2 separate regions of the Homo sapiens genome follow, and region 2 is linked to region 1. The links come from fine-mapping of genetic effects on gene expression. Tissue or cell type: whole blood. Region 1 holds a variant in brackets; the other region holds the start of a gene. All regions are shown on one strand. Distances are from middle to middle.

Region 1 (9,851 bases):
GATATTTTTGAGAATCAAAGAGGTGGACTGTACATTCATCCCCAAACAAATGCAGAGACGTGGGATTTGTGTCCATTCTGGGGATTCAGAGACTGCCTGAAGCCCATCCTCAAATCCCTAGGTCAGTATTTAGAGCAGTGGGGTGCTGGCTTGGAGCTCTGGAAAACAGTCTGGCAGGTCCTCAAAGGTTAAACATGGAGTATTGACAACCCAGCAACTCCACTCCTAGGGATATGCCCAAGAGAAATAAAAACCTGTGTGTGAATTTCACAGCAGCATTGCTCACCCGTAAAGCAGAAACAACCCAAACATCTGTCAACTCATAATTGGAGAAATAAAATGTGGCCCATGCAATGGAGTTTTTTTGTTTGTTTGTTTTTTGAGATGGAGTCTCGCTCTGCCGCCCAGGCTGGAGTGCAGTGGTGCAATCCTGGCTCACTGCAACCACAATGGAGTATTTTTTAGCCATAAAAAGGAACCAAGTACTGATAGATGCTACAACACAAATGAATCTAAAAAACATGATGCTAAGTGAGCCCGGGCGCCGTAGCTCACACCTGTAATCCCAGCACTGTGGGAGGCCGAGGCAGGCGGATCACTTGAGGTCAGGAGTTCAAGACCAGCCTGGCCAACATGGTGAAACCCCATCTCTACTAAAAATACAAAAATTACCCGGGTGTGGTGGCGCACATCTGTAATCCCAGCTACTTGGGAACCTCAGACACAAGAGTTGCTTGAATCCGGGAGGTGGAGGTTGCAGTGAGCCAAGATCTCACCATTGCACTACAGCCTGGTAGACTGTAGTCTCAAAAAACTTTTGAGTTTTGAGACTCCGTCTCAAAATACAAACAAAAAAAACCCATTATGCTAAGTGAAAGAAGCCAATTACAAATGACCACATATTACATAATTCCATTTACATGAATTATCTGGAATAGGTAAATACACCGCGGTAGAAAGCAGATTGGTGGTTGTCAGGGGGTTGGGGAGAGGGGAATGTGGTGTGCCAGCTGAGGGTACAGCTTTCTTTTGGGAGTGATGAATATGTTCTAATATTGACTGCAGTGCTGGATGCAGAACTCTGTACATACAACAAATGTCACTGAATTGCACATTTTAATGGCTAAGTTGTATTATGTAAATTACATTTCAGTAAAGCTGTTAAAAAAAAAAAAAAAAAAAGCCAGCCAGGTGTGATGGCATGCGCCTGTAGTCCCAGCTAGCAACCAATGCAGGAGGCTGAGGCAAGAGGATTGTTTAAGCCCAGGAGTTCAAGGTTACAGTGAGCTATGATGGTGCCACTACACTGCAGCCTGGGTGATACAGTGAGACTCCAATCTCTTAAAAAAAAAAAAAAAAAGGCAAAAAAAGCTTGGCTGGGGAGAGGGGAGGGTGAATTTCACAGGAGGACACCCTGTAGCTGGCACAGGTAATGCTGAGTCCTAGAGGCTGCAGGTTTGCAGGCAGGGGCGTCAGCCACTCCCTCACCTGCCTGCCCTCCTCCCCTGCCTTTCACAGAAGGCCATCCTGGGTTCTCTCAATCTGCTTCCTGCTCACCTTTTCCTTCTGCTCCATGGGCCTCCACGGGCAGTGTCTTGGGAAGGACCCAGCACACAGGCTGGTGATCCTAGGGAAAAAGGTGTCAGGCCCAGGTAGGGAAGGCAGAGGGTATCAGCCCACTGAAAATGAGGACGTCCGGGTGGGAAGTGATGACGGGACAGTCATTGGGAGTGGGATTCAACACTAGGACAGACAGATGCTGGAGAGGAGGAGGCAAAACAGATGCAAGGGACTCTACGCCGTTTGGGTTGGAAGATTCTGTGAACGCCTTGTGGCCCCTGTGCTGCCCTGCCTTACGCATTGGAGGGGTGGGGATGGAGGCATGGAGAGGCACAGCAGGACCTGGCCGATTCCCGGGTCCCTCTGTGTCCCCGGCATGGCCTCCTGTCCCTCCCACCCAGGCCTTTCAGCTGGGCTCACTCATGGCCTCTGGCCAAACTCAGTAGCTGTGTCAGGGCAGACTCATGTTTTAGATTCCCAGAAACCCAGTTCAAAAGAAGGAGGTAGACTCGGGACAGCTGGCCCAGAGAGATGGGATGTTATTTGGCCATGGAAAAAAAAATAAGATTATTTTTTGGCCATAAAAAGGAACAAGGTTTTTTGTTTTGTTTTTTTGAGACAGAGTTTCACTCTGTTGCCCAGGCTGGAGCGCGGTGGCACAATCTCGGCTCAATCTCCATGGGCCTGCTCCATAGTGGATCTCGGCTGCAATCTCCGCCTCCCGGGTTCAAGTGATTCTCCTGCCTCAGCCTCCCGAGTAGCTGGGATTACAGACATGTGCTACCACGCCCAGCTAACTTCTGTATTTTTAGTAGAGGTGCGGTTTCACCAGTTGGCCAGGCTGGTCTCAAACTCCTGACCTCAGGTAATCCACCCACCTCAGCCTCCCAAAGTGCTGGGATTACAGGTGTGAGCCATTGCACCTGTCCAGGAACGAGATTCTCATCCATGCCACAGCACGGATATACCTGGAAGACATGATGCTCAGTGGAAGAAGCCAGACACAAATGGTGTACGATGCCATTTATAGGAAACATCCAGAAAAGACAAATGCAGGGAGACAAAGTGGAGAGATGTGGTTTCCAGGGGCTGGGGACGGGGTGATGGCTAACGGGTGCAGAGCTTCTTTCTGAGGTGCTCTAAAGTGGACTGTACATTTTCAATGGGCGAATTTTATAATATGTGCATTACAGCTCCATAAAGCTGTTAAAATTTTCTAATAAGTCTTTAAAAAAACAAAAAAGAACTGCTGTGCTACTGCACTATGACTCCATTTATGTAAAGAACAGAAAGTGACAACACGAACCTCTGCAGTCAGGGTGGTGAACCGCCCCAGAGTTGGGGGTGATTGAGAGGGAATATGGGGGCCTTTTGGGAGCCGGGAACATTCTGTTGCATGTTCCGTCTGTCAAAGTCCCTCTGTGTGTGACACATGCTTTTCTGTATGCAGGTCACACCCTCACTGCTCGGAGACAGCTCGATGCCTTGCCCTTTTTCCTCATTAGTGGGAGGCGACCACAGGAGGGGACAGAATAGAGAGACCAGAGCCCTGAATGAGTCAGGGTTACCAGGGAGATGATCTACGAAATCACGATCGGATGACAATGACAGCTACAGCTCACAACCGTGCAAGCAACTTGGCCGGAGCCACCTCGCTTCCCAGAGACCCCACAAGGGCTCCTATTATCCACGACGCTTCAGGCTCAGCACAGACAGGTTCGGCAACCTGCCCCAGCTCACCCAGTGGGGGCATGGAAGAGTCAGCTTGGAAGCCAGGTAGCGTACAGCCATGCTCTTACCAGATACCCTGCTGCCCGACTCTCCCTGGCCATCCGAATAGAATCCATTTTCCAAGGCCCAGATCCCTGAGAAAGGGACCACGTGGAGCTCCAGAGGGAATCTGGGAGAACAGAGAAGCCGCTGGCTGCTATGCTGCTAGCCAAACCCTCTCTGGCTTTCACTGGCTGTTGCTAATCCTTCCTGAGTCTGTTTTCTCGTCTGTGAGGAGGGCACACTGATACTGACAGAGGGTGAAGGGCACAGCCTCTGGAATCACACTTGGGCTCTACCCTACTCTGCTACCTGGGTCAAACGGCGTTGCCTCACCCAGCCTCTGTCTACTCCTTTGCAAACAGGAACCTCACAGGGTTGCCGTACAGTTTAGAGGAGATAAAGTCTGCAACATGCTCAGCACGGTGTCTGGTGAACTGGGAGTGCACCACAGATGGCACCTTGCAGGATGGGGACCCTGTGATGTCCACAGCACCCCGTCCTCAGTGCCTTGCACTGCTGGGCTTGGCAAGGTGGTCAATAAATGGTTTGCTGAGCGAATAATGAAGCGAATAATGAAGATGGCTGCACGCAGGGCTTCCCTCTTTGTCTGGCCCATCCTGAGGCACTGCCCTTCCCCAGGTGCCTTCCCCAGGGCCCAGGTGTCCAGACCCTGGAAGGAGAGCAGACCCCAATGTCCCAGGAGAGAGGGAGGAGAGGTGGGGGAGAAACCACCTAGAAGAGCCTGACCCATGTGCCTGGAGAAGAAATTAACTCAACACAAGAGGCCTGTCCCCAACCAGCAGCAACAAGACATGCTTGACCTGCTAGGAATTGAGCTGGGGACACAGTGTCCCCAGGTGCTGGCTTCACAACCCCCAGTGGGTGTGTAAATGGCTCTGAAGCCCGCTGCCTCTGCTCTCTCTCTCTCTCTCCATAGGCACCTGCTACATCCACACCTGACTCTCACCTCCCCCTCACCACTGGTGCCTGACTCTTGGAGCCTCAGTTTCCTCATCTGTGAGATGGGTGCAGACCTAATCCTTCCCATATCAAAGGGGATGGTTCAGGGTCAAACACAAGGTGGGGAGAGGGGTGCTGGCCCAGGCTCTGCCCCTTACCAGGCACATGGTCTTGAGTAATCACAGCATGTCTTCAAGCCGTGATTTCTCATATGTAAAATGGGGATCATAGGAATATCCAGGTAACATGATGGGGCTAATGAGATGATCAAATGAGATAAATCCACATAAGATGCTGAGTAGGCTGCCTGACACAGGATGAGCTCTTAATTTTAAAATAATAACAGTAATAACGGCAGCAGCAGTAACAGTAATCGCTGCAGCAGTATTAATAGTAGTAATAATAATAATGTAACAGCAGCTAACCTACGTACCCTCAAAA[T/A]GGAAGGAACTATTCTAAGAGCTTTACATTATTACATAGGGTTCACAACAACCCTATAAAGTAGGTACTTATGCCCATTTTATTTTCTTAATTTTTTTTTTTTGAGACGGAGTCTCACTCTGCCGCCCAGGCTGGAGCACAGTGGCGTGATCTCTGCTCACTGCAACCTCCACCTCCTGGGTTCAAGTGATTCTTGTACCTCAGCCACCCGAGTAGCTGGGATTACAGGTACCTGCCACCATGCCCAGCTAATTTTTGTATTTTTAGTAGAGATGGGGTTTCACCATGTTGGCCAGGCTGGTCTCGAACTCGTGACCTCAGGTGATCTGCCCTCCTCAGCCTCCCAAAGTGCTGGGATTACAGGTGTGAGCCACTGCACCCGGCCTGTGCCCATTTTAAAGATGAGGAAACTGAGGCAGAGAGATGAAGCCACTTCTCATTGTTAAGAATGATACTGGCGGACCCAGGCAGTGGCATGGTGGTTGGTGCCTGGCCTTCAGGGACTTTCCCTAAAACCTGCCAATGTCCCTTTTCAACAAGGAGAGCACCGGCCTTGAGTCCAGCGCTTAGGACAGGCTAACCTTTTCATTTCATCAGTTTCATGCTCCATCAATACTCGTGTCAGTTTTGTTTTCCTTCCTCCCTAGGTCCCCGCCGGGCTGGATGAACCGGCTTTTCTAAAGGTGTCGCAGCCCAGGCTGCAGCCATGGGAACAGGCTCTGCCTCACCTCAGAGCCCAGGGCTGACGGCAGGTCACTGCCCTCAGCCAGAGCTGATTCTCATGGCCAGTGGTGTTGCCCCAGTGACCATCAGGGGTAGCGGGGATTGCCCAGGAGGGCTCCAGGGCCACACACCTTCCAGGCCTCCTGCGGGAGAGCTTGAGCCCTCGGGGCTTCAGAATGTCCCCCTGGAGTCATGAAGGGCTCGCGTGACATCAAGCTGTGCTAAGCACTGCAACACTTAATCACCCCCACATAATCATGAGTGGCAACAATGATGATCCTATTTTACAGACCAGAACACAAGGCCCAGAGAGGCAAAGAGACTAAGCCCCAGTCACACAGCTAGAGTTGGCGCGGGACTCCAGCTCTGCCTCCAGGCTGGCTCGAACCATCTTGCGCTTCCTCACTCTCACCACTTCCTTCCTTCCAGTTGCGCATTTTTACGTTAAAGAGAGAAAGAGCGAGGCATCTGCTCTCACCCAGCCCCCAGCCCTCAGCCCAAGAGGCCCCATCTGGGACCCAGGAAGAGGGCAGGACAAGCGTCAGGCCAACAAGAAGGGAAGGACCAGGCTCAAAAAACCACCGAGGACTGTGCTGGGCTCTTCCTCAAGCCTCGTGGTGTGGGTTGGTTTCCGGTGGCTTTCGGAGCCCAGCTCAGTTGCAAAGTTCTCTCTAGGGGTACTGAGCATGGAGCTCCCCAACCCCCACCAACCACCACAAGGCTAACCGACCTCCAAGGTGAGGGTGCAGCCAGGCCCCAGATTCTCAGGCCGGAACTTCCACCGCTCCAGGGCTCCCTGCACTGAGGGAGGCCACTTTGCCGGGCTGCCTGCCCAATGTCCCTCTGAGTTCCCCTTCCTGCACTGCCTGCCCAGTGCCCCTCTGATTCCCCTTCCTGCACTCACTGTTCAGCATGTGGTGTCCCCCACAGTGGGGAAGCTGAGGCCCCATGGAGACTCTTCAAGGCAGAGACTGCATGTCACTCAGCACATGTCTTCCCAGTAGCCAAGATACTCAAAGTGTGGTTTCTGGGCCAGCAGCATCTGCATCACCTGGAGCTTATTAGAGATGCACCATCTCTCCCTACTCCAGACCTACTGAATCAAAACCTGCATTAATACAGTAGTGCATTCATGGCTCACTGCAGCCTTGAACTCCTGGGCTCAAGTGATCCTCCCTCCTCAGCCTCCTGAGCAGCTGGGACTACAGGTGTGTACCACCACACCCAATTTATTTTTGGTAAAGACAGGGTCTCACTATATTTCCCAAGCTAGTCCTGAACGCCTGGGCTCAAGTGATCCTCCCGCCTTGGCCTCCCAAAGTGCTGGCATTACAGAACCTGCATTTTAACGCAGTCCCCAGGGCATTCACGTACACATGAATGCGTGAGAACTGCTGGCCTCTTAATCTCTCAATGTTTCAAAGCACCTGGAATTGTGCAAATGTGCTAGGCAATTCTCCTATCCACATTTTTGCACAGAAGATTCTGGCAAGAAAGGCCTGGTCCTTTTTGCTCCTGGCAAATGCCTCTTTGAAAAGCTGGACAACGTCGCCAAGACCACTCCCCCAGGCAAACACCTTCTCATCCCTGTCCCTGCCCCATGTCAGTCCCCCACTTTCCCCAACACCTGGAATTGACTTCTTACAGTGAAAGCAACTCAGCGACAAGCATTCGAGCCCCTTCAAGGAGCCAGGCACTGTTCTAGGTGCCAGCTGCAGAGGTAAAGACAGACACGATCCCTTACGGGGAATCTAGGAGAGCACAAAAAAGATGGGAAATAGAGTATCTCAGGGAGTGATGAGTACTTTGCAGAGAAATTCAGCAGAGAAAGGGAGGGGACCACAGGAGACCGGTACAAGTTTAAATGAGGTTGACCACAGAAAGGCCACAGGGAAAAAAGTGACATTTGAGCAGAGACCTGAAGGAGGGGAGGTTCTCCACTCCCATGTGTCCAGCTGGTGGGGAGGGTGCTACCAGCATCTAGTGGGTGGAGGCCAGGGATGCTGCTCAGCACCCCACAGTGCCCAGGACAACCCCCAGTGAAGAATCATCCAGCCCCAGAGCCCAGGCTCAAAAACCCTGCTCTAGGGGAAAAGCATTCTAAGAAGAAGGAACAGCATGAGCTAGAGCCCTGGGGTGGGGAACAAAGAATGTTCATGTAACTTGGGCAAAAATAATTGGAGATGGGTGTGGCAGGGGCCCAACCGTGCAGGGGCCAGAAGGACACTGAGAGGCCTCAGCGGAGGCTCTGACTCCCAATGGGTGAGACAGAACATCTTCAGCAGAGAAGAGACAGTCTCATAGGACCCTCCCACATGGTACCGTGAGCCTGGATGGTGGATGGACAGTGAAGACAGACACAGGGGAACCAGGGAGGAGGCTGTTGGGGTAGCCCAGGCCAGAGACCATGGCAGCTGGATGAGGGCAGGGGCTGGGGGAGCAGAGGAAGAAGGGGAGAGAAGTAGCAAATCCTGGGCTCCTTGGGAGGTAGAAATGGCAGTGTTTGCTGATGAACTGGAAGCAGGGCTGAGACAAAGGGAGGAATCAAAGGTGACCACTGCAGGGAACTGTGAGGCTGCCGTTCACCACAGAGGAACGGGGGACCTCTGGGAGGGATGAGGAGGTGCTTGCTTTGAAAGGGGCATGTTAAGCGGCATGTCTTATTGGATATTAAGTGGATGGGCAGTTGCTACATGAGTCAGGAGCTCAGGGGAGAGGTCCTGGGAGGACATACAGATGTAGGAGCTGGCCGGGCACAGTGGCTCACACCTATAATTTCAGCACTTTGGGAGGCTGAGGTGAGAGGACTCCTTGAGCCCAGGAGTTCAAGACCAGCCTTGGCAACATGGCAAGACCCCATCTCTACAAAAAATACAAAAATTAGCCGGGTATGGTGGTACATGCCTGTAAGTTCTGGGAGGCTGAGGCAGGAGGATCGCTTGAGCCTGGGTGGTTGAGGCTGCAGTGAGCTGAGATCGAACCACCACACTTCAGCTTGGGCAACAGAGCAAAACAACAACAAAAAAGTAGGAGCTAACATACAGCTGGTGTTTCAGGCCACATCTGTGCATTTTATTTCAAGGACAAAAGGAAACCCAAGTCATCACTAGGGCAAAGGCAAACCCTCTGTGATCTGCACCCAACTCTCCAATTCTCCTCATGTGCTGGGCCTTCTGCCTAGAGCTCCCCTCCCTCTTCTCTTCACACACCGGCTCCTTCTCTCCTGGTCTCAGCCCAGATGTGGCCTCCTCAGTGGCACCTTCCATGACCACCTACCCCAAGGACCCTCTCCTCCCTAGGGTTCCAGGGGATGGCTGTCTGCCCTGTTTCCTTCCTTTAGCTTTTTTTTTTTTTTTTTTTTTTTTGGGGCAGGGCTTCACTCTATCGCCCAGGCTGGAGTACAGTGGTGCGATTTTGGCTCACTGCAGCCTTCACCTCCTGGGTTCAACAGATGTTCTTGCCTCAGCCTTCTGAGTAGCTGGGACTACAGGCACCCGCCACCATGAATGGCTAATTTTTTTTTTTTTTTTGAGACGGAGTCTCACTGTGTTGCCCAGGCTGGAGTGCAGTGGCGCTATCTTGGCTCACTGCAAGCTCCGCCTCCCGGGTTCACGCCATTCTCCTGCCTCAGCCTCCCGAGTAACTGGAACCACAGGCACCCACCACCACGCCTGGCTAGTTTTTTGTATTTTTAGTAGAAATTCACTGTGTTAGCCAGGATGGTCTCGATCTCCTGACCTCGTGATCCGCCCGCCTCAGCCTCCCAAAGTGCTGGGATTTCAGGCATGAGCCACCATGCCCAGCCAACCTTAGTATATTGCTCATGTTATAGCATGAACTGGCTGATGTGCTAGCTTTCTCTCTGACTACCCCTCACACACATAAGCATCAGAACAGAAGTGCCCCAGCAGGGGAAGGGGAGCCTCCCCTTCTCAACCCTGTAGGATCCTCAGCTCTAAAACCCATCACGGAAGGCCCTGGACATTTGCAGGCTTGTAAGCAAGGACCATGTCAGTATCAACCATCCTGGGAAAAGAATCTCTATAAAAGTTTTATATGCGAGTACCTGCTAATAAAACTAAGACTGTTTAGAAAGCTGCTTTTTGCCTCGGGAACGCCTCCGCACCTTTTCACACCAAACTACCCCCTTGGTGGCTCTCCTCACGTCTGCCTTAACACTCTCACCTAAGCAGATGTGCGAGTCCAGCTGCCTCACGCCCGCTGTCTTTTCTGGGCATCTTTACAGCTACCGTAGCAGGTTTTCCTCTTTAAGTGAACGTGCATCATCCTAGCTGAGGCTTTTAAAGGGAGGACTCGCTGCCTCTTGGAATATATTAAATTCTGATGGTGAAACAGCCTGCTGAGCTAGGTAGGGCCTCAGCAACTTCCTTATG
Region 2 (9,851 bases), 37 kb after region 1:
AGCCGAGCATGGTGGCGGGCACCTGTAATCCCAGCTACTCACGAGGCTGAGGCAGGAGAATTGCTTGAACCCAGGAGGCAGAGGTTTCAGTGAGCTGAGATCGCGCCACTGCACTCCAGCTTGGGCAACAAGAGTGAAAATTCATCTCAAAAAAAAAAAAAAAGAGAGAGAGACAAGGTTAAGAGGAAAGGTTTGAGTTTGTTTTTTCTTGTTTTTGTTTTTTGTGAGATGGAGTTCACTCTGTCGCCCAGGCTGGAGTACAGTGGCATGCTCTCAGCTCACCGCAACCTCCGCCACCCAGGTTCAAGCGATTCTCCGACCTCAGCCTCCCGAGTAGCTGGGATTACAGGCGTCTGCCACCGCGCACAGCTAATTTTTGTAGTTTTAGTAGAGACAGGGTTTCACTATCTTGGCCAGGCTGGTCTTGAACTCCTGACCTCATGATCTACCTGCCTTGGCCTCCCAAAGTGCTGGGATTATAGGCGTGAGCCACCACGCCCGGCCTAGACCTTACCCTGGGTGGAGACAGAGAAAGGCTCCCGTACGTAAACACCTGATTGTACACATCAAATGAAAACAGTGCTCCAGGCAGAGGAACAGCTTTTGTGCAAAGGCCTGAAGGTGAGAAAAAATACGGGAGTCTTTTCCTATCCCTTCTTGGTTCCTAGAAATTCAAGTGGCAGCTACACACAGTGAAAGCATGCTGGCAGTAAGAAAGCAGTCTTGGGGCCAGGCATGGTGGCTCATGCCTGTAACTCCAGCGCTTTCAAGAGGCTGAAGTGGGAGGATCACTTTGAGGCCAGGAATTTGAGACTAGTCTGATCAACATGGCAAGACCCCTGTCTCTACAGAAAAATTTAAAATTAGCTGGTGTGGTGGCGCACACCTGCAGTCATAGCTACTGGGAAGGCTGAGGTGGGAGGATCGCTGGAGCCCAGGAGTTCGAGGTTGCAGTGAGCTTGATCATGCCCCTTGCACTCCAGCCTGGGTGAGAGAGCAAGACCCTGCCTCAAAAACTAAAAATTAAAAAAAACTGTAAAAAAAGAAAGTAGGCTTGGGGATCCCATGATCTCCAACTCCTCCACTTAGCAGCTGTGGGACTGCAGGCAAGCTGGTTTACCTCTCTAAGCCTCAGTTTCCTCACCTGTAAAATGGCCCTAACACTGCCTTCCTGGGGGATCATTACTATAAAGAGTGTTATGCAGAGAGCACCAGCGTGGAGCCTGATGCTCAGCAGGTGCTTGGGGAATTATGTTCATTATCACCAGCCTCAGCCTGACCTTCTGGTCCTTTCTGGATGGTGTTCTCAGAAAGGGACCAAGCTGATTCCTCCCCAGAAAGTCAGGGGTCATCTTGGTCCTCAGGGAGGCGGGGGAGTCAGCAGCCCTGTGGGCTCAGTCTGTCCTCTGGCCACCTTACCCTGAGGCTTTTCTCCCTTTTTCTCAGGGAAGATTCCCAAGGGAATGGCCTTGGAGGAAGGGCCCTGCCTGACCCACTGGGTCTCTGGGAGCTGACGTTCCCATGCCAAGCCGATCGTCTCGCACGTAACCTTATCAAATCCACACAATGACTTCAGGATCCAGGTGGGGGTACTGAGGCTCAGAGAAGTAAGATGACTTGCCCAAGGTCATGTAGCTCAGAGAGGTGGGACCAAGACTCAACTCTCAGCTATGGCTCGGAGCGACCAGGACATACAAGAGTGTTTAAAGCATGGTCAATAACAAACCATGTACATGTGTTTGGTCTAACTACTTCATGTATATTAACTCAATCCTTCCCAACAACTTCAAGGGAGGTACTATGACTATGCCCATTTTATAGTAGATAAAACTGAGGCTCAGAGAGCATAAGTGACTTGCCCAAGGTACCTGGCAAGGCCCCTGAAGCCAGGCTCCTGCCACAGCCTGAGCCCTGACGACAGCTGTGTCCTCATCTCATGCATTCTTATTTACTGTTGCTGGCTTGTCCCTGCCACAGGGCCTCTGCATTCGACGTCCCCTCGGCCCGAGATGCCCTTTCCACTGATTTGCACACCCCTGGCTCATTCTTACTTGGATTTCTGTTCCATTATCACCTCCTCAGGGAGGACCTCCGGATCCACCCTAAAGCTCCATTCTCATGCCACCCTGCTATGCCTCGTTCACAGTTTAACACCTGTCGGGCGTTTTGTTTACTGTGTGTCCCCCTCCAGGAACAGCAGCCTCTCCGAGTCATCTCTAAATCCCCAGCCCCTGGTCTATAAATATTTGCTAAGTGGGCAAAAGTGACCGAATTACGCAGTCCCTTTCGGAGGACTGGGGGCAACTTTCCACCTACCTAAAGTTCCACCTGCCTACTCTAGTCTAACCTCAGAACCTCCTCTCCGACCCTCTCCATCTCCCTTGGGTTATGAAGTCTGAGCTCTGGGCAGCAAGAAGGGAAGCCGCTGCAGCTACATCTAGGAAGGTTACAGAGCAGGAACACAGCATCTGTCATCCCAGTGGGAGGCTGGACCCAGGAAACTGACAAGACTCCCAGCATGCTCTGCAGCCCCTCCTCCCTGTCAAACCCACAACCAGGTGGAATTCCCGAGTGCCCCGTGGGCTGCCGGAGAGCCCACCCTTCCAACGGGGATCCCAGCCACAGAGAATGCCCATCGACACCCATCCAGATTCAAAGCAGTGGGAGGCGAGGAGAGGGCACATGAGAAATAATAAAAGCAGAGGAGACCCAAGCAAGTAAGAGCTAGAGGAATCCCTCCTTTCTCTCTCATATTAGTCTTCGGATTGAAGTGCATAAAACTTTTTGAGTAAGTAAAATATCCAACATAGTTCAAAATGAACATATAAAAACGTTTACGGAGAAAAAGCTCACTCTCCCTTCATCCCTTCCACTCCCCCCGCAACCCCCACCAAGCATCCATTCGTACTTTCTGGTGGATTCTTCCAGTCTGCAAATATAGCAATTACAAATGTATACTCTTATTTTCCCCTCTTTTTACATTTTCTATTTCTTTTTACTTTGCGGCTCCAGCTCAAAGGATCCTTTTTTAAAAAACAGAAAAAAGGGTACCATATTATATATGCTGAGCCACACCTTTTACTTCTTTAGTTGGATATTTCTATATCTCTACACACACAGAGATACAGATATAGACGTATAAGTGCGTGCATACACACACCAGTTATTAATGGTTTTCTGCAATTTTCATCCAGTTCTCCTGGAAAGGGGTATTTAGATTGGGGGTCAAGAGGGGTTGCTTTTCAGCTGACACACAAACAGCTGGGCCACCCTCTCTTGGTGATCAATACTGGACGCTGGTTCTCTGCACTTGAAGCAGGTGCCAGGAGCTAGCTCTTTCCCAAAATATCTGCAGCTCCCATTTCCTGAGCGTCTACCAGGTACTAGGAGAACTCTTACAACAGAGAAGGAAAGCTGAGAATCAGAGAGGTAAAGTGACTAGCCCAAGGTCACACAGCCAGGAAGTGCAGCTGGCAGGGTTCACAGCCGGTCTGTCGCTCGCCAAAGCCGGTTTGCCCACACACCTGGCCCCCGCGGTCTCCAGTCCACACCCTGGTCCACAGCCAGAGGCAGAACTGGCCATGCCGAGTTCAGGACCCAGGGCCAAGTCCCCAGCCCGGCTGAACTCGGGCAGAGAAGCGCTTTCTCCGCCATTTCCCTGCGGGCAGCTCGGCCAGGCCTCCCAGGGCTCCCCGCCTCCGGGCCGATGCGGGGCGCGCAGCCTTTGCTGGTCCCGGGAGACTCAGCGAACTCAGGGGAGGACGCTGGGCTCCGGGCAAAGTGCTCTGCGGCCGCTGCCTCGCTAAGTCTCCCAGCCACCCGCGGGGATGAGGCTGCCTGAACCCATTTTACAGATGCGAGGACGAAAGCAGGCGCCGGGCGCCGGCTCTCCCGACTAAGGTCACCCGGCCGGGGAGCGTCGGAGACCTGTTCCCACCCAGGTCCGCCGACTTCAAAACTTTCCGCTCTCGCGCTCACGAATGCAAACGACTCTCAGGTGTGGGGCGCGCGCGCCAGCGGGGGTGCCTGAGGGACTTGCCCGCCCGGCCTGAGGCACCTGCCCTGCGCTTGGGAAGCCTGGGCCCCGCTCCCTCCCCGGTCCGCAGTCCCCCGGCCAGGGAGTTCCCGGGCCAGTCCGAAGCTGAGCGGCTGCGGCACTGAGCATCGCCGCGGAGCTCCTCGCCGCAGCCCGCGAGGTGGCCAGCGGGGACCCATTTGAAAGAGGAGGAGACTGAGGCGCAGAGAGGGCCCGCCACTGGCCCAAGGTCACACAGCGCGGCGGCGGGCCGGGGTCCCCAACAGTGGCCGTTCGGAGGTCCCGCCCCGGTCCCCGCGCCGCCCCCCGCGGGTACTCACAGCCGGTCTTGCCCTCGAGCTCCCGCACCTCCTCAGACGCGGAGTGGGCAGCGCCCATGGTGCCCGCGGCGGGGGCCCCGGGGCGCGCGTCCCTCTCAGGCCCCGCACTGGCTTCGGCTGCGCAGCGGCGGGACTGGCCTCGGGTCCGGCCTCGGGTCGGGACGCCGGCGAAGGCTCGGAGCCGCGGGTTCCGCGTGGGGCCGGAGCGGGGCCTCATATAACGGCGGAGGGCGGCGCGCCGCGGTCCTAGCGCACGCCGGTTTCGCGCACTGCGCGGCTAGGGGAGCGCCCCGCCCCGCCCCGGCCCGGAAACCGCCGGGAAGGGGACCCCGGAGCCCACCGCTCTGGAGTCCCCGTTCGTGCAGCAGTGCTCACGTACCTCGTCCCTTCCGCACACCTGCTGGATCTGGAAGGAAGCAGGTGTGAGCAAATTTGGGGGCGTGGGTAGGAGGGGTGGGACCCCTGGGAGGTGCTATGCCCACTCCCAACCCATCCCACCTTACATCCTCCAGATCTTAGGAGGGAAACTCCACTGAGATAGTCAAGGAAGTCAGCGAGCATGAAATAGCTCTATGGAGAACAACAGTAATAATAATCCTATTTGAAAATGCACCATGCGCTTTGGTTTTTTCCAGGAAAGCCCCAGCACCTTCTGAGGTGAACACACCCACGTGGCGGCCCGTGTGGGCCCTGCACAGCCCGGTGGCTGAGAGGCACCTCAAACTGCAGGAGCGGGCTGGGCGCATGGCTCACGCCTGTAATCCCAGCACTTTGGGAGGCCAAGGCGGGCGGATCACTTGAGCTCATGAGTTCGAGACCAGCCTGGCCAACATGGTGAAACCCCGTCTCTACTAAAAACACAAAAATTAGCCAGGCGCGGTGGCACATGCCTGTAATCCCAGCTACTCCGGAGGCTGAGGCAGGAGAATCACTTGCACCTGGGAGGCAGAGGTTGCAGTGAGCTGAGATCTTGCCACTGCACTCCAGCCTGGGCGACAGAGCAAGACTCTGTCTCAAAAAACAAACAAACAAAAAAACAACTGCAGAAGTGGGCCCAGGAGGCTGCATTTGGGACAAACTGCTGGAGAGAAGGCAATGCCGGTGGTCCCCATGCCCATTAGGGAAGTTCTGGGTTAAGATGGCTTGAGGGGTTGGCTCTCCATCCAGTTGGGGTGACTGGGGCCGATGCTGTTGCCTGTGTAATGTGATTCCTCCTCCTTAAAATAAGGATAAGTTAATGAGATGTCCACCAGAGGGCCTGGCGTGGACACAGCACATGGCCACAGAGGCTGGTGGGCGCTATGGAATCTTGTCCCCTGGAGAGGCACACAGCCAGGGCAGAACATCAAGGTCAAGGCTCTCCTGAAGGCTCTGCAGTGCTTAGTGACACCACCATCAATGACCGTCAGGTATCAGGTCTGTTCTGAACGTTAGTCTCGATGATAAATGTTGGGGAGGAAGGGGGACAGGGTAGGGGGCAGGAGTTTTTCGGTGCCCACAGAGGGGACTCGGGTGGACCTACCTCCATCAGTTTCACAGGCTGCTGGGAAGGGGGCTGCTGAGAACTGCTGTTCATTCCTGCAGACTACAGGCTCAAGCCAAGGGTCACAGCCCTTTCCAGGGGCAGGAGGTGACTTTCAGAGCCCGAGGTAGAGGGTGGGAGTTGGTCCTAAAACCTCCTAGAGCATCAGAATCAGCCCCTTCCTGGTTGCAAATCCAGCTTTTGGCCAGGTGCAGTGGCTCATGTCTGTAATCTCACCACTTTGGGAGGCTGAGACAGGAGGATTGAGCCCAGGAGTTTGAGACCAGCCTGGGCAACATAGCAAGACCCCAGCTCTACCAGCAATTAAAACTTTTTAAAAATGAGCTGGGCACAATGGTGTGCGTCTGAAGTCCCAGCTACTTGGGAGGATGAGGCAGAAGGATCGCTTGAGCTCAGGAGTTAGAGGCTGCAGTGAGCTCTGATTGCACCACTGCACTCCAGCCCAGGCAACAGAACGAGACCCTGTCTCTAAAATGGAAAATCCAGCTTCCTCTTCCACTGCCTGTCTGCACTCGTAGAGCTAAGGCAGCACCTGCAATCTGCATTTTAAAGCACTCTCCAGAGGGCAGTGCAAGACCTGATCAAGGTGGAAAGATGTTGGCTGTGGGTCATCAGCTGATCTGAGCCGGCAGGACAGCTGACCTAGGGACTGCATTTTGGTTTAAAGGATTCTGGAAACAGGCAGGCCTCTGGGATCAGGAAAGGATCCCCAATACCCCTGGGAGTTCTGAGCCGCTGAGCCAGCCCATTACGTACAGCTGCTGGGAGCAATTTTATTCCAACTTAAAATGTCAGTTCCTGGAATTTTATTATATTAAACTAGTCAAGGATTAAATGATGGAACTGTCTGATGTGGGGGATAGGAAGTGGCATTCTCTGGACATCAGCCCCTCCTGCTTGGCACAGTTGCTCTGGTGGGGACAAAAGCCCTGGGACAAGGAGAAGGGCACATGGCTTCACATTGTCCCTTGGTGATCTCAAGGAAGCCCCTGGTATCTAGTATGAAGGGAGTCTGTCCTACCCGATCACCTGTCTACCCTGACCCACTGACCGCTGTTAGCTACTAGACAAGCACTTGTACTTGTTCCTTTTGCCTGAAACTCTCTTGCACTCCCGCTTCCTCTTCAGACCTCAGTGGAAACTCACATCCTCAGGGAGGCCTTCTCAGAGTCCTCATCCCCTCTCCTGGGTCCACAGCCAAACAAGCCACCACCACCAGTCAGCAGGGAGCTGGGAGGCGGGAAGTCTTGCTGAGGATGACAGAGGAGGATTTATTCCTAATAGCAGGGCTTGGAGAAGTAATCAGGAGATCCTTGGAGCAGCACGAAGGCAGAAAAAACCAAGGCACAATTTATGCATTCGTTCAATCATTTATTCATTGCACATTTATTGAGCACCTACTATGTTCAGGGCTCTTGCTAGGTCCTGGAGCCACAGCCAGGAATAAGATGCCACCTTCGCTCCTGAAGAACTCCTGGTGGGGTGAGGAGACAGACACACGGGCAGTGACAAAGCAGATGGGTAAACAAGGGCTGACGTGATGGAGCCCACAGAGAGATGGAATGTTCAAACCAGAATGGGCCCCTGGAGAGACTCTGTCATCCCTAAAGCTGAGCTTCAGGAAGTCCAGGACTGTCCCCAACTGTGGTCCCGAAGGGATACAGCAAAGCCAAATTCTTGGTGGACAGATGTCTCTGTGGGGGCCCCTGCAGTGGCACCCACCATCTGCCCGGGCTCTGCCCTCCTCTGGCAATGATGTGCACACCGCAAGGCGCCCTCCACGCAAAGCCAGCTGCTGCCTGTTCCGGGACGTCATGGCTTTCATTCAAACCTACCAATGGCTCTGCAGGCGTCAACAAAGCAAGAAGCAAGAATGAGGTCTGCAGCTTTGCATGGGGTCTGGCCAGGGCTCATTGGATTTTTTGTCTAGAGCCCTGGAAGAGGGGCACCCTGCTGGGGGGCAAGCTTTATCCCCCCCAATAACACAGCATGACTTTTGGAGGACTGGGAAACACTTTAGTCACCAGGCAACTGCGTCTTTTCTCCCAGAGGACCTCCTCCTGGAGGAGCTGATTAAAAGTGGTGACCGCAATTCATATAGCTGGTCCCTGTCAAGCCGCAAAGAGCAGCTGAGCCCAGAGATGGCCAGGATGGTCTTCATTTGGCTCTCCCACCTTCCTGTCATGGAGGGCTATGAAACCATACTTGGGCAAGTTAACCTCTCTCATCCTCAGTTTCCCCATCTGCAAAGTGGCAATTACATTGTGAGGGTTAAATGCAGATTCATATATGTAAGGTGATTCATACATGTGAGGTGATTGTGAAGGTTAAATGCAGATTCATATATGTAAGGTGATTCATACATGTAAGGTGATTGTGAGGGTTAAATGCAGATTCATATATGTAAGGTGATTCATACATGTAAGGTGATTGTGAAGGTTAAATACAGATTCATATATGTAAGGTGATTCATACATGTAAGGTGATTGTGAGGGTTAAATGCAGATTCATATATGTAAGGTGATTCATACATGTAAGGTGATTGTGAGGGTTAAATGCAGATTCATATATGTAAGGTGATTCATACATGTAAGGTGATTGTGAAGGTTAAATGCAGATTCATATATGTCAGGTGATTCATACATGTAAGGTGATTGTGAGGGTTAAATGCAGATTCATATATGTAAGGTGATTCACACATGTAAGGTGATTGTGAAGGTTAAATGCAGATTCATATATGTAAGGTGATCATACATGTAAGGTGACTGTGAAGGTTAAATGCAGATTCATATATGTAACATTGTGAGGGTTAAATGCAGATTCATATATGTCAGGTGATTCATACATGTAAGGTGATTGTGAGGGTTAAATGCAGATTCATATATGTAAGGTGATTCATACATGTAAGGTGATTGTGACGGTTAAATACAGATTCATATATGTAAGGTGATTCATACATGTAAGGTGATTGTGAGGGTTAAATGCAGATTCATATATGTAAGGTGATTCATACATGTAAGGTGATTGTGAGGGTTAAATGCAGATTCATATATGTAAGGTGATTCATACATGTAAGGTGATTGTGAAGGTTAAATGCAGATTCATATATGTCAGGTGATTCATACATGTAAGGTGATTGTGAGGGTTAAATGCAGATTCATATATGTAAGGTGATTCATACATGTAAGGTGATTGTGAAGGTTAAATGCAGATTCATATATGTAAGGTGATCATACATGTAAGGTGACTGTGAAGGTTAAATGCAGATTCATATATGTAACATTGTGAGGGTTAAATGCAGATTCATATATGTAAGGTGATTCATACATGTAAGGTGATTGTGAGGGTTAAATGCAGATTCATATATGTAACATTGTAAGGGTTAAATGCAGATTCATATAGAGAAGGTGCTTAAAACTGCCTGACACCGTAAGTGCTAGCCAGTGGTGAGCTGGTAAACAAGTTCTCTGAAAAGGGCAGGAGGGGCAGAAGTCCTAATCTGTAGCAGTTGCCAATTTCTGTGTGTAAATACTCGTGCCATAGTCAATTTCAAGTTACTGATAATTTAACAATAGGCTTGCAAAATCCCTGAATTTTGTTTTTTTAGATATGGGGTCTCACTATGTTGCTCAGGCTAGCGTCGAACTCCTGGGCTCAGAGGATCCTCCTGCCTCAGCTTTCCAGGTAGCTGCAAATACAGGCATGCGCCACCATGCCCAGCTTAAAATCCCTGAATATTTAACCATTTGCTCTTGCAAGCCAGTCAAGACCAGGAAACTACTACCCAGTTGACTGTCATATGTTCGTTTATTTGTTCATGCATTCACTATTGAGTGCCAGGAGTTTGGACACTACAGTGAAGGAGACAGTCCCTGACCTCAGGGATCCCAAAGTCTGCAAGGAAAGAGATGTGAACAGAACATCATGGTATGCTAGCCGGTACCAGTCACTG

What was found. PIP is the estimated chance that this variant, and not a neighbour inherited with it, causes the effect.
Region 2: it holds the start of TESC, and the variant in region 1 is fine-mapped to the expression of TESC in whole blood (TOPMed, PIP above 0.99).

The regions. Positions count from the first base shown.
Region 1 is chr12:117,057,403-117,067,253 of GRCh38, forward strand. All of the region lies in intron 2 of TESC (tescalcin), which reads right to left. Among named protein-coding and RNA genes, the nearest start is that of TESC, 37 kb to the right of the region's middle. RefSeq lists enhancers at 5,011-5,787, 5,788-6,564. The variant T/A (reference allele first, on the strand shown) is at 4,735.
Region 2 is chr12:117,094,869-117,104,719 of GRCh38, forward strand. TESC (tescalcin) reads right to left here and starts at 4,548. Exons shown (of 8, transcript NM_017899.4): 1 at 4,357-4,548. The coding sequence starts at 4,414. TESC-AS1 (TESC antisense RNA 1) reads left to right here and starts at 4,599. Exons shown (of 3, transcript NR_120464.1): 1 at 4,599-4,776; 2 at 5,585-5,772. RefSeq lists silencers at 3,944-4,043, 4,114-4,223, 4,284-4,803, 4,542-4,680, 5,547-5,764 and an enhancer at 7,680-8,179.